2 separate regions of the Homo sapiens genome follow, and region 2 is reported to be linked to region 1. Evidence: microRNA targets listed by miRTarBase, many of them from high-throughput screens and not tested one by one. Region 1 holds a microRNA gene; the other region holds the end of a gene's coding sequence.
The links. Region 1 holds the annotated microRNA hsa-miR-6739-5p (UGGGAAAGAGAAAGAACAAGUA, at 3,298-3,319, shown strand). A microRNA usually pairs through its seed, bases 2 to 8, with sites in the 3' UTR of a target mRNA and lowers its output. Matches are read on the target gene's strand: a 7mer-m8 pairs with bases 2 to 8, a 7mer-A1 pairs with bases 2 to 7 and ends in A, and an 8mer does both.

Region 2: miRTarBase lists FBXL19 as a target of hsa-miR-6739-5p. Seed matches in the 3' UTR shown: 7mer-m8 at 5,683-5,689.

Annotation. Positions count from the first base shown.
Region 1 is chr1:201,860,081-201,867,199 of GRCh38, forward strand. MIR6739 (microRNA 6739) reads left to right here and starts at 3,293; the gene lies at 3,293-3,367. It overlaps IPO9 (importin 9), which reads left to right. Exons shown (of 24, transcript NM_018085.5): 14 at 3,368-3,527; 15 at 6,653-6,879.
Region 2 is chr16:30,945,979-30,953,078 of GRCh38, reverse strand. It overlaps FBXL19 (F-box and leucine rich repeat protein 19), which reads right to left. Exons shown (of 11, transcript NM_001382779.1): 10 at 6,131-6,349; 11 at 4,296-6,027. The coding sequence ends at 5,849. ORAI3 (ORAI calcium release-activated calcium modulator 3) reads right to left here and starts at 4,011. Exons shown (of 2, transcript NM_152288.3): 1 at 3,562-4,011. The coding sequence starts at 3,789. RefSeq lists enhancers at 1-78, 2,138-2,655, 2,656-2,885, 3,174-3,692 and silencers at 3,616-3,665, 3,706-3,965, 4,336-4,585.

The DNA of each region.
Region 1 (7,119 bases):
TTTCTCATCCTTGGAGCCAGATCACCATCCGAAAACACTGCCTTTGCTTTCTCTCTCAGTACTTAAATCATGGAACCTTTGGTATTGTTTGCTCCATTTTCGGTCCATTTACTTCCTCTCCATAGGATAGTTCTGGGAGTAGCTTATGTCATTTGAAAATGTTCTGCTCTGTGATTTTAAATAGGTAATCTATTATCGGGTGTCTCAGTCCATCACTTCCATTCTCTGAATCACAAATTAAAATGGTTGTACATCCAGAGCTCAGATGCGTTGGGAATATCCTGTTTCACTCTGTACTTATCATATGCTGCATTGTTGAATATGTTTTCTTACTCCTACTAGTAAGGTCTCTGAGAGTAGAAATCATGTCTAATCTTTGTATCCTACAAGTGCCTTGAGTAGGCATCCCATAGTTACACATTGAATGATTTCTGAAGCCCATCAACACATTTCTTATAGAGTTTACCCTAGCAAAGATTTTTCAAAAACTTTGGAAATTTTAGAATATTTGTTATTTAGTCTGGAAAAAGGCTCAATATATATCATTTGTTAATCCTACCTGTAGCTAAAACCTTTTCTACACCAACCATTCTGAAACTTTTTGGTTACAAATTATCAATAATTTAAAAGACATTTTTATGTGGCTTTAATTTATTAATATTTAACATACTAAAGATTAAAACTGAGTTGTTTTTAAAATAAAAGAAATGGAAACATGTTTTCCCCTGGCTGTCAGAGCCATGATATCACATACCATATAACCTCTGGAAAACTCCACTGTATACTTGTGAAAGAATGAAAGTGAGGCCGGGCATGGTGGCTTATGCCTGTAACCCCAGCACTTTGGGAGGCTGAGGTGGGCGGATCATGAGGTCAGGAGTTCGAGACCAGCCTGGCTAACATGGCCTAACCCCATCTCTACTAAAAATACAAAAATTAGCTGGGCGTGGTGGCACGCGTCTGTAATCCCAGCTACTCAGGAGGCTGAGGTAGAGGAATTGCTTGAACCCAGGAGGCGGAGGTTGCAGTGAGCCGAGATTGTGCCAGTGCGCTCCAGCCTGGGCAACAGAGCGAGACTCTGTCTCAAAAAAAAGAAGGAATGAAAGTGAAAAAAATAATGTTTCTGTATTACTGTGAAAATAGTTTTAACTTTAGGGAATTTCTGGACCATCCTTTGGGAACTGCTTCTGTACATTATCAGTTTCTCACTTACAGTGGTTGGACTTATGATTTTTCATCTTTACAGTGATGCCAAAGCAATATGCATTTAGTAGAAATTATACTTCAAGTACCCTTACAACCATTCTGTTTTCACTTACAGTATAGTATTCAATAAATTATATGAGATATTCAACACTTTATTATAAAATAGGCTTTGTGTTACGTGAGTTTGCCCAACTTTACGCTAATGTAAGTGTTCTGAGCATGTTTAAGGTAGGCCCGGCTAAGCTGTGATGTTCAGTATTAAATTTAAATGCATTTTTAACTTACAGTATTTTCAACTTACGATGTGTTTATCAGGAAGTAACCCCATCATAAGCAGAGGAGCATCTGTATTGCGTAATTTGACTGGCACAGTTTATTAGGTTCTGTTCAGTGTTTTCCGTCAACAAGATGTTTATTGTGTGAGTAAACAAGTTAAGCCCTGTGACAAGCTGAATAAGAATAGTCTCTCCTCAGCAGCTTATAGTAAACAAGGGTAGTAATCCTTACATTAGTGGCTAGACTATCAAACGAAATATATAACATGTAAGAACACTAAAGACAGAATTACTGTGGCATAGAGATAGTTAGAATTGCTTCAGCCTAAGAGATGAATTAGGTAATGCAAGGAGGTGAATATGTTGGCTTGCAATATGAACAAGGCAGAGAGCTGGGAGAGTAAGATGTAAGTTGCTAAGGAGGGATGTGTACTTGAGTTTGGAAACCATAAAGGGAAATCATAGGTAATGCTAGAGTCACTGATCTTAGGGAGCCTTGAATAACGTGATGACTAAGGTAATCTTTATTTGGTGGACTATGGAATTAATTGACAGATTTTAAATAGAAGAATGACATGATCAGAGCTATAATTTATGTTTTAAGAGTGGTCCAAGGCTGCACGCGGTGGCTCATGCCTGTAATCTCAGCACTTTGGGAGGCCAAGCCGAGTGGATTGCTTGAGTTCAGGAGTTCAAGACCAGCCTGGCCAACATGGTGAAACCCCCTCTCTACTAAAAATACAAAAATTAGCCAGGCGTGGTGGTACGCACCTGTAATCCCAGCTGCTCGGGAGGCTGAGGCAGGAGAATCGCTCGAACCCGGGAAGCAGCGGTTACAGTGAGCTGAGATTGTGCCACTACACTCCAGCCTGGGCAACAGAGCAAGACTCCATCTCAAAAAAAAAGAGTGGTCCAAAAGTGGGAATAAACTAGCAATGGAGATGGCAACTTAGAAGATTAAGTGGGCGGGTACCATGGCTCACACCTGTAATCCCAGCACTTTTGGAGGCCAAGGCAGGCAGATCACCTAAGGTCAGGAGTTTGAGACCAGCCTGACCAACATGGAGAAAGCCCATCTCTACTAAAAATACAAAATTAGCTGGGCGTGGTGGTGCATGCCTGTAATCCCAGCTACTGGGGAGGCTGAGGCAGGAGAATCACTTGAACCAGGGAGGTGGAGGTTGTGGTGAGCCGAGATCGCACTGTTGCACTCCAGCCTGGGCAACAAGAATGAAACTTCATCTCAAAAAAAAAAAAAAAAAGATTAACTAGTAGTACAGGTAAGGAATAATGAGAGCTGGGGGTGAGGACTGGGGTGGTAAAGTCTTTTTAGTCTAATAATATTCAAGATCTACTTTGCTCAGAAGAGACAAGGGAAAACTGGGAAATTGATTTTGTACCACAGGTCACACATTTGCTTTCATCATACAAGGTTATGCTTTTTCTCTCAAATGAGTTGTACATATTATGTAGCATCTATTTACTTCTAAAAAATTGAGGAATGGAGGGCCGGATGCGGTGGCTCATGCCTGTAATCCCAGCACTTTGGGAGGCCGAGGCAGACAGATCACTTGAGGTCCAGAGTTTGAGACCAGCCTGGCCAACATGGCAAAACGCCATCTCTACTAAAAATACAAAAAATTAGCCGGGCATGGTGGCAGGCGCCTGTGATCCCAACTACTCAGGAGGCTGAGGCAGGACAGTTGCTTGAACCCGGGGGACGGAGGTTGCAGTGAGCCGAGATCACGCCATCGCACTCCATCCTGGGTGACAGAGTGAGACTCCATCTCAAAAAAAAAAAATTGAGGAATGAATGTGGGAAAGAGAAAGAACAAGTAAAAGGAATTTTCATTTTCCAGCCCCTAATTGTTCTGTCTTTCTCCCAGTGTCTCCTTTCCTCTTGGGCCGGGCACTTTGGGCTGCCAGTCGGTTCACTGTTGCTATGTCCCCTGAACTGATCCAGCAGTTCCTACAGGCAACAGTTAGTGGTCTTCACGAGACACAGCCCCCATCAGTTCGAATTTCTGCAGTGAGAGCCATCTGGGGGTGAGTATGCTACCCTAGCGTGATAATTAAGGGAAAGTTGCTCAGGTTAGATATAACAAATCACAGTTTTCCAGTGTATTATGTTGCTTGGAAATCCCTGCTAATGATATCCTTCAGGGTGAATGTTGGAAGGACAGGGAAAGAAACCATGCTAGAGACATGGCTTTTGTGAGTCCAGAAGATGTCCTGTTCCTTTCTGCTCCTCTTCCTCTTTAAATTCGCTCCAGTTCTGGAATCATCTAGGCAACTCCCTTTCTCTCAATGGTGAAGAACCTGAGGTTTGGAGAGAAAAATGTTTTGCACAGGGTTGCACAATTGATGAATGATAGAAGCAGGATTAGAGTCCACATCATTTTGTTGGTTGATTATATTAGAAACCAAATCTGGGATAATGTGACCTAGAAACACTGCTTATTTTTTCCCAGTTTTACCTATCTTTTTTAAGGCTAGTGTTACTAATGGATCAAAAGTCATTTATTTATATTCCTACGCAGACTAGAAGGACCATTGTTGTTTTAAGGAATATCTTAGGCTCAAACTTAAACATCTCAACTGAATCCTATAACTACCAACACAAAATTTATTTTCCATGTGCCTGCCCTGTCTTATCTTTTGAGGCAGAGGAGTATCTTTTGAGATGCCGTGTGTTATATGTCATTAGAAAGCATTCAAGAACTGCCTGTTTTAATTAAATGGTTAATGTTATGACCATAAACACCGTCCCATCTTTTTCTGCTTCAATCTAGGTGAAGCAGATCTTTGGCTCTAAAATAATTAGAAGTATCATCTTAAGAGGCAAACTAAGTATAGCTTTTTCAGAAAGCTCTAACACCATTTTAAATGTCTGAGAAGAGAGAGCCCTAAGCTGCTTAAGGCATGAATGTTATTTTAAGGGTTTTTCTGAGTTTGTACCTGTGGTCACTGCCTGTTTAGCTTCTGACCTTAGTGAAACTTGATTTCATTGGAGAATTATCCACTTTGTGTTGTGATTTTATGGAAATGTTTGCAGCTGCAAGCTGTGAGAGGAGTTTGGTATGAATGTGAAAGTACTTTGGGTAAAATAAGCCCATTACTTTCCAGAGTGTTTTAGGTAGACAGCAGTACCTATCAGGCATACTTACCAACATTGATTCTCTCTGGGGGAGATTAGAGTACAAAGAACTTTCATTCTCTGTTATATATATAAAATATTTTGTTTGTTTGTTTGTTTCAACAAGTTTATATTACTTTTATAATCAGAAGAACTGTGAAGAAAACTTTTATTTTTAATGTTCATATCTCTTGGACCACATGGGTAGTGGTTTAATAGTTTTCTTGAGAGATGTAACAGATATCTCTGTAGGATGACAAAAGCTGTGGATATGTGGGCCAGAGAAATGGACACTCATATATGTTTACAAAATTTTATATTCATTGTCAAACACTGGATTCCTTGAAGCCTATCTGTGGATCCCGATTAAGAACTGTCCTATGAATGGATCATTAGCTATCTTTCTTTCAGTCAAGAGTTTCCCTTTGGTCATTTCCTATTTAGTTTACCAGCCAATTGCAGACTGGCTTATGTCCGTGTCACACTATTGGAACTATTTTTCTTTTTTTTTTTTTTTTTTCTTTTCTGAGACGGAGTCTTGCTGTCTGTCGCCCAGGCTGGAGTGCAGTGGCGCGATCTCGGCTCACCACAACCTCTGCCTCCTGGGTTCAAGCAATTCTCCTGCTTCAGCCTCCCCAGCAGCTGGGATTACAGGCATGTGCCACCACACCCAGCTAATTTTGTATTTTTAGTAGAGACAGGGTTTTTCCATGTTGGTCAGGCTGGTTTCAAACTCCTGACCTCGGGTGATCCGCTCGCCCCCACCTCCCAAAGTGCTGGGATTACAGACATGAGCCACCGCGCCCGGCCTGCAGCTGTCTTTTCTAATGTCACTAGTAACCTTTTAATGATCAGCATTCCACCGTTGCTTTTCTTTTTTTCTTTAGCCCCAGTTTTAATTTATTCCTTCATGTCATAGTTTATGTATCATTGCAAACTCCCTTAAATAATCTCTGAAACAAGATACTGATTGACAAATAATTATACTTGTTTCACATTTTTCAACTCAAATTTATGTCAGACTGTATTCGCCTCATTTCAATCAACAAATATTTACTGAATGTTGCTTATCATGTCCAATATGATACAGTTGTTAAAAATACATTGTCTAGGACCAGACACGGTGGCTCACACCTGTGATCCCAGCACTTTGTGGGGCCAAGGCAAGTGGATCACCTGAGGTCAGGAGTTCGCTCCATTTCCCACTTCTATTCTAAGGGTTTATAGTTACTTTGCCCCTCTAATGAACTTGAAACTGTACCGTATGGTAGATTACAGAGTTTGCATCATCTATCTACATCATGCTGGATCTTAAATGCCATGCTGAAAGAGGTTGGACTTTATTTTGGAAGTCGGTGTTTCTTTAACTTGTGTTACTCCTAACACCTAATCTTCTCTTTACCCTGAAGTCTCCAGGGGAAACTGATGTCCCACGAAAATATTATATATATATCCTGTGGCTTCCTATACTGCCTGACATAATATGACTTTCTTCTGAAGTACCTCTGTCTCAAGTTCGAAGAGAACAACTGGGCCACCTGCCTTGGCCCCCCAAAGTGCTGGGATCACAGGTGTGAGCCACCGTGCCTGGTCCTAGACAATGTATTTTTAACAATTGTATCATATTGGACATGATAAGCAACATTCAGTAAATATTTGTTGATTGAAAAGAGGCTAATACAGTAAAACTATAGAGGGAACTTTAAATCCTACAGCTAATAGGCTGATTTTGAAAGTGAAACATAAAATGTTTATATAAATTAAGCTTGTTTCAGGATGCAAAAAAAAAAAACCTCAAGAAAAAAAGCAGAAGTTTTTAAAGAAAATAGCAAAAGTCAAAGAAATAAATTACAGAACATAGAAATGGTGGTGTTGATGTTTATATAATACATCCAGAAAGAAGTAGAAACTTAAACCTAACTTTAGAATTAGCTTTATAAAGCTACACATACAAATGCTATAATATGTGAGATTGATTGGGAAAACCAGGAATTGAATTTTTTTTAATAATTCTTGCTTATCTATCTCTCTCTAGTTATTGTGACCAACTGAAAGTCTCAGAGAGTACCCACGTGCTCCAGCCCTTCCTCCCCAGCATCCTTGATGGCTTAATTCACCTAGCAGCCCAGTTCAGCTCAGAGGTCCTCAACCTGGTGATGGAGACCCTGTGCATCGTTTGTACAGTAGACCCCGAATTCACAGCAAGCATGGAAAGCAAAATCTGCCCCTTCACCATCGCCATTTTCCTAAAGTACAGTAATGGTATGCTGCCAGGGAGGATGTATTATGAGGGGCACCAAAGAAAAGGTGGTGGCTGGTGAATTTAAATGAAAGATTCCCTAGGTCTGGTCTTAGCTATGAAGCTATGGTTTTAACATCGTAAGCAAAGAATCTGGCTTTCAATTAGCAAAAAATAGAATTGTGCTGTAAATGTAGCAGCATTAAAAAATAGAGTACCTATTTCTGTAACACTTACTCTCTAGTAAGGACTTAGGGATAAAG
Region 2 (7,100 bases), not on the chromosome of region 1:
TGTGCCTGGCAGAAACCAGAGACATTCAGTCTCTGTTGAGTAAACGAATGGACAGCTTTGCAAAGGCTCTGTTCTGTTCTGGTTTCCCCACCTCCCTATCAAGAGGGCTGGATGGCCGGGCGCGGCGGTTCATGCCTATAATCCCAGCACTTTGGGAGGCCAAAGTGTGTGGATCACCTGAGGTCAGGAGTTTGAGACCAACCTGGCCAACATGGCGAAACCCCGTCTCTACTAAAAGTACAAAAATTAGCCGGGCATCGTGGCACATGCCTGTAATCCCTGCTACTTGAGAGGCTGAGGCAGGAGAACTGCTTGAACCCAGGAGGCAGAAGTTTGAGTGAGCCGAGATCATGTGACTGCACTCCAGCCTGGGCAACAGAGCAAGACTCTGTCTCAAAAAAAAATTAAAAATAAAAATAAAAAAAAGGGCTGGATGACATGCTTCTAACAGGTTTACTGCATAGGGATCAAACAGCAGATTCTGGAGCTGGGCTGCCTGGGATCATTCTCTGCTCTAGCTGTGTAATCTTGAGCAAGTCAGTTCTCTGTGTGCCTCAATTTCCTATCTGGAAATAGAGATTGATAACAGCACCTCCCTGCCTTATAGGGTTGGTATAAACATTAAATGAAATATACATGAAATGGGCTGGGAGTGGTGGCTCACGCCTTTCATCCCAACACTTTGGGAGGCCGAGTTGGGCGGATCACCTGAGGTCAGGAGTTCAAGACCAGCCTGGCCAACATGGTGAAACCCTGTCTCTACTAAAAATATAAAAATTAGCCGGGCGTGGTGGTGTGCGCCTGTAATCCCGGCTACTCAGGAGCTTGGGAGGCTAAGGCAGGAGAATTGCTTGAACCCAGGAGGCAGAGGTTGCAGTGAGCCGAGATCGCACCACTGCACTCCAGCCTGGGTGACAGTGTGGGACTCTGTCTCAAAAAAAAAAAAAAAAGAAAGATAAGAAAGAAAAGAAAGAAAGAAAAAGAAAGAGGAAAGGAAAGGAAAAGGAAAAGGAAGAAAAAGAAAAAGAACAGTGCCAGGCACAGAGTAAGCACTAGGTATGTGTTTGCTGTTCTTGCTATAGTGAATGCTAAAGTCTGAGGACAGAGTTTACAAATCGGCACACTGTGGACCACTGCCAGCTTGCAGACGTGTTTTGCTTGGCTCACACAGTGTGTTTCTTAAAAAATGGAAGATGCTGCCAACTTGTAAAACTGAAGAGATTTCTTATATCCCTATTTCCAGATCCCCTTGAAAACTTGGAAGAACTAGCCACACTTGGCCTGCGTTCCTGCATGGCAACTATCAGCTCAAATCAGTCATGGCTGCTCCCCTTGGAAAGGTCATGGGGTCTCTCTTTTTTTTTTTTTGGTAGATGCCAGGTCTTGCTATGTTGCCCAGGCTGGCTGGACTCGAACTCCTGGGCTCCTAGGCTCAAGCGATCCTCCTGCCTTGGCCTCCCAAAGTGCTGGGATGAAAGGTGTGAGCCATCACCCCCAATGTCATGGGGTCTCTTGCTTGCTAGTCCCTACCCAGCCAATTTGGCATCCATATTACCTGCCTGGCCCTTTGCAAACATTTGAGTTGATGACCCTATTCTAGGAATTTATAAATTTGGAGTCTGGAACCAGACGGCTTAGGCTCAAATCCTGCCACTTACTTGCTGTGGGACCTTGGGCAGGTGTCTTAACATCTCTGATCCTCAGTTTCCTCATCTGTAAAATGGCCAGAGTAGCAGTACCCACTTTGTAGGCTAACAGATGATGTATATAAAGGCACTGAGGGCAGTGCCTGGTGCTTAGTGACAGCTGGATACAATTTGTATAATGCTATTCTAACTTAGGCCACCTGAGTTTCAGAAGCCCACTCTCTCCCCATCCCTGGTTCTTGTAGGGTCCATTCGATTGCTCTGGGCCTGGGGAAAGAAGAAGGTAGGTGTAGAGGCTGGCGGGTGGAGGTAGGAAAACAGGGCTGAGTATTTTGGGAAATTGGGCCATGGCAGGTGTCAGGAGGTGTTTTCCACAGACAGGGATCTGGGCCAGGCTTAGTCCTGGTTTCTCCCAGAGCCTGGCCCAGCCTCGGTCACCCCTGCTAGGACTGCGGCCAGTCCTGCCCCCGGAACCTAAACCTCCAGCCCCTTCCTCCTGCAGAGAAGGCTCGGGCCCTTAAGCTGTCACCCCAGCAACCTGCACCTGCATATTCTGCCGTGGAGGGATTGTCTCCTTGGGAACAGGCTGGACCATGGGGTTGACCTCCCTCAGCTTGGGTGGCTGCTCCCTTCCCTCTGCAGGCTGTGCAGATGAAGGGGAGCCAACATCCTGTCCCTAGGTGATGCCCCCATCATGAAAGGTAAGCTGGTCTGTGGATTCTGGGACCCCACATAGAAGACCATAGGCTTATGATGACCCTTAGGGTTAGAGAGTTTCCCTGTCATTGTTCAAATATGGAGGTTGTGGCACAGACAGGGCAGGGACTAGCCCAGATCCCCTAGCGCCATGGTCCCCACCCCAACCGCCTCTGATATCCACCCCCACAGGAGTGCGTTCCCCAAAGTACCTCCTGCAGCTCACTTTCTCCTTTTTCCTGGGGTGATGGTGGGGCAACCCCAGACTAACAGAGCAGCAACCCTGGGTCCCAGTTCATTCGCTCCTGCCCAGAGGCAAGGCTTTTACTTTCCACACCTGTCCAATTAGCAGGCTAGTCTGAGCCATCCTTGGTACGTGACCTGCTCTGACATGCCTGGCTCACCCTGGGGCGGTTACTTGGCTGGCTACAGAGGGCGCACCCTCCATGATCTCAGTTTCCCACTGGCTTGCAAGCGGGGTGGAGGCCTGTCCAGGGTCACACAGCTGGCCACAAGCAGGGAGGAGCCAGGACTGTGTCTGCTGATCCTCACCCTGGGACCTCCCTCCATCCCACTTCCTGTGAGGCCACTGCTGGGGCAGACCGTTAGCCAACACCGTCCTCCTGCACCTGGGGTTTATCAGCTTGAGACTCGCTTATCAGTTTCCTCATCAGCCTCCTTCCCCAGCGGTTCCCTCCCGGGCATGATCTCTTGTCAGTTTTCCTGGTTGACACTAGCACCCCTTGGGCCCGCTGGAGAGTGGCCACCTTCCCTGGGACGGGCCCACCTTCAGCTGGGTGACCCTTCCACCCAGCTAATCCATCTCGAGCCCCCCACCTGTTGATGCAGCCCCCACCCAGCTGACCTGCCTTTGAAGCTGGCACTGGGACTTAGGAACCACTTCTGCCAGGTACAGGCTCCATCTGGACCACTCTGCCTCACTGTTGCAGTCAACCCCACCAGCGATTTGTTCACCCCACTCCCACTACGACACCTTTAGGACTTTCGTGTCCTCCGGTGGCCCCGTCTCCTGGGGTCCCCTGTACACACACATCCGTAAGAAGGGACTTGCTCAGTCCCGCGGGACCTTGTTCCTTCCCCCTTTGACGAAAGCCCCCTTTAACCTGTCTCCCTTGGGACCTGTTTACTTCGCCCCCCCCCCGACCTGTGCCCCCCACTTGCTCTGCCCCACCGGGTGTGACCCCTCCCGGCCCCTCACCATGGCGAAGCCCGAGAGCAAGGCAGACGTGCGGCTGGAAGCTTTGAGCTTGGCCCGGCTGAGGTAGAGGCGGCGCCAGCTGAGCGCCCGCAGCGAGTGCTGACTGGCCCCCATGAGGTCCAGGTAGCCGCGGTGCACGAACTCCCGGTACGTGGCCGAGCCTGCAGGGCTCTCGCCCTCAGGGTTCAGCGGGGCCTGCTCGCCCGCGTCCCCCTCGCCGCCCTTCATCCTGGGGGGGGGGCGGCACCAGGCGGTCACTACGGGGCGGAAGCGCCTCGGGGGCCCCAGCCGGGCCGGCCCAAGCCCGGGGGCGGCCCCATTCCCAGACAGGACGAGCAGGATGCAGGCGGCGGGCGCCCAGGAAGAGGCACCCCCAGTGGAGCAAGAAAAGCAGCGTCTGCGGGGAGCCCCAGGAGCCGGAGCGGGACAGCGGAGGCCAAAACAGGAACTGGGACAGAGGCGGAGCCGGGGCTAGCCACATGATGGGGTGGAGCCGGGGACCAAGTCCCCGCAGTCCCGGGCCCGCAGAGATTCCCCGCGACCCCTACCCACCAAGAACGTTATCCAAGCGCCCGGACCCCACCGAGGTGCACGCCAACCCCAGCCCCCTCCAAGGTACAGCTGGACACCCCAGGTGTCCACACTTCCAAATCCCTCCCAAAATGAGTCCAGGAGAGGTGAGCCCACTCATCTGTAGGTAGGGACCCCGCAGATACACACACGAACTCCGCAGCCCCGGCTGGAAGATTTTGAGTTTTATAGCAAACCGTATTGTACAGACCCGGGGCCCAGGGGCCCAGCCCGGCTGGGTCCCCCGCTTGCCCCTCGCCGGGCTGCCTCTTCCCTCCCCCAAGCGGCCCCATTCTCAAGCCTCTCGCTATCCCCAGGCCCCACCCCTCCGGCCTTTGGTCCGCCCAGCCCTCCCCCCACCCGCGCACCTCCCTGTTACCTGAGGTATGTGGATAGATCTCCCCTCCCCTACATGGTAAGCCCCGGCCCCCCGGAGGCCTGCGCGGAGGGGCGGGACCTGGCCCGGCTCATCCCCGGGGTCCCGAAGCCCCACCCCGCGCTCGAGGAAGGGGCAGGGAAGGAGGGCCAGCAGAGTCTGTTACTAGGTTCCCATGGCAACTAAGAGGGGGCCATTTCCAGCCTTAGCACTGGCATCGGGAGGTGTCCGTTGGCTGCTATTTCCATGGCAACCAGGAGTGGCAGTTCCCTGGGCAAATGGGATACAAGTTTCCATGACGATGAAAGAGTGGGAAGAGCCAGGCTGGAGGAGTCCCATGGTCCCCATTCTTGGGCTGGCGCCCCCAGCCATAATGCGGGTCCGGCGGGTGCCGCCGCTCAATACAGTAAAACAAGAACAAGCCTGGGGGTGGCGCAGTCCCAAATGGGCGCCCACCGGCCCGGTCTCAGGTCTCAGTCCAAGCTGGTCCAGTCCCCTCACACCCCGGCTCCCCCAGGTCCGAGATTCCCCCGGTTCAAGTAACACTTCAGTACAGATGAATGTTCAAGTATTGTGCGGAGAGGCGGGCAGGGGGTTGGGGCGCCCCTCGCCACTCCCCTGGGCCGCGAGCTGAAGAGCGGCTGCCCGCGGCCCCCACTCCTTGCAATAGCTGCCGTTTTCAGTGACGTTCAAGGAGTCAGGGTCAGGGGGAAGGAACTGAAGCCTGGGGAGGGGGGAAGCAGAGAGGTGACCCCCAAGGGGGTATTGCTGTCCCCACACCTGCTCTCATCCCCACCTCCAGCTCAGCCCCAGCTTGCCCCTGGTTCCCCTACCTCTGACACCTGGATCCCCAATTGCTCCTCCGGTTTTCCTTTTGTGGCCCCACCCCCACCCCCCACTCCAAGTAACTGGTCTTTGTTCCCTGAACCCTTGGTGGTCTGCTGTCTGCCCCGCCCCCCGCCCCTTCCACCTCCCCCAGCCCCTGGCTCCCATATCCTGTGTGTGTCCTTTCCCCATTCTCCCCCCCAACACTTGCACCATAACCCCCCTCCCACCGTCCCTTCGGCTCAGCACCCTCCAGTACCTCTGACCCACTCCCCCAGGGGATGGACAATGAAGCAGGTAGCAGGGGCAGGACATAGGAAGGAGAAACCCCCAGAGATATCAGTGCAGGGGGGAAAGAAGGGGGTGGCTGGCTTGAGTCCCTGGGTGGGAATCCCAAGTCACTGACACTCAGGAATCCCAGGGTGGTGAGGTGGGAACCTGGCCTCCCAGCAGGGGTGAAATGAAGCCGGAGGTCCAGGCTCCTGTCGAGTCCGGGGGAGGGTGGGGGGCGCCCAACTAGCTGTCCTTGAGAAGCAGCTTCTCCTCAGGGCAGCGGAAGGGGCCAGGGGGCCCGGCAGCTGCCAGCCGGGCACAAGCTTCGGGTGAGAGCTGGCGGCAGGAGCGCAGGTCTAGGCGGCGTAGACGAGGGCAGCGGCGGAACAGCGGGAGGCAGTGGTCCGTTAGGCGGTGGCAACCTGGGGATGGGGCAGTGGAGCTGAGACCAGGCAGGTGAGCAAGGGGTTGGCACTGGCCGTGGGGATCCACAGGCTGGCAGGACGGATGGGGGACCGTGCTTACCAGCAAGATTGAGGTGCACCAGGGTCTCGCGGAGTGGGGACGTGGGGGCCGTGAGGAGGTGAACACTGGGGTCCCCGACGTGGGCGCAGTGGCTCAGGTCCAGGGCGCTCAGCTGGGGTGCGTGACGCAGCAGGAGACGCAGGGAGGCATCTGTCAGCTCCAAACCTGCCAGACGCAGTTCTGCCACCCCCTGCAGCCGACCACGGCTCTCTGTTTGCCCTGGGCAGCCAGATGAGAGGTCAGCACTCCTGGCCACTCCCATCCCTGCGCCCAGGTATCCAGACCATCTGCCCTCCACCTGCTTCCCACATAAGTGAGTGACCTGGTGCACTCTGTGGCTTGCTCTTCTCAAAAACACCCTCATGGCCTGACCTCATCTGTCCACTCCTCACATCACCTCCTCGGAGGCCTTCCATGATTATTGTATTTGAGACTACAATATTCTGCCAGGCGTGGTGGCTCATGCCTGTAATCCTAGCACTTTGGGAAGCCGAGGCAGGCGGCTCACTTGAGGTCAGGAGTTCGAGACTAGCCTGGCCTAACATGGCAAAACCTTGTCTCTACTCAACATACAAAAATTAGCCGGGTATGGTGGCAGGCGCCTGTAATCCCGGCTACTCAGGAGGCTGAGGCAGGAGAATCACTTGAACCCGAGAGGTGGAGGTTGCAGTGAGCCACGATTGTGCCACTGCACCCCAGCCTGGGCAACAGAGCGAGACTCCATCTCAAAATAAATAAATAAATAAATAAAAGAGTCTGTGACCTCCCCTCCTCTCTCTTGCTGTCTTGCCATGTGACATGCCGATTCCTTCACGTTCCATCAAGAGTAAAAGCTACGTGAGGCTTCCCCAGAAGCTGAGCAGACGCAGGCACGATACTTCCTGTACAGCTTGCAGAATCCTGAGCCAATTCAACCTCTTTTCTTTATAAATTACCCAGCCGAAGGTATTTCTTTATAGCAATGCAAAAA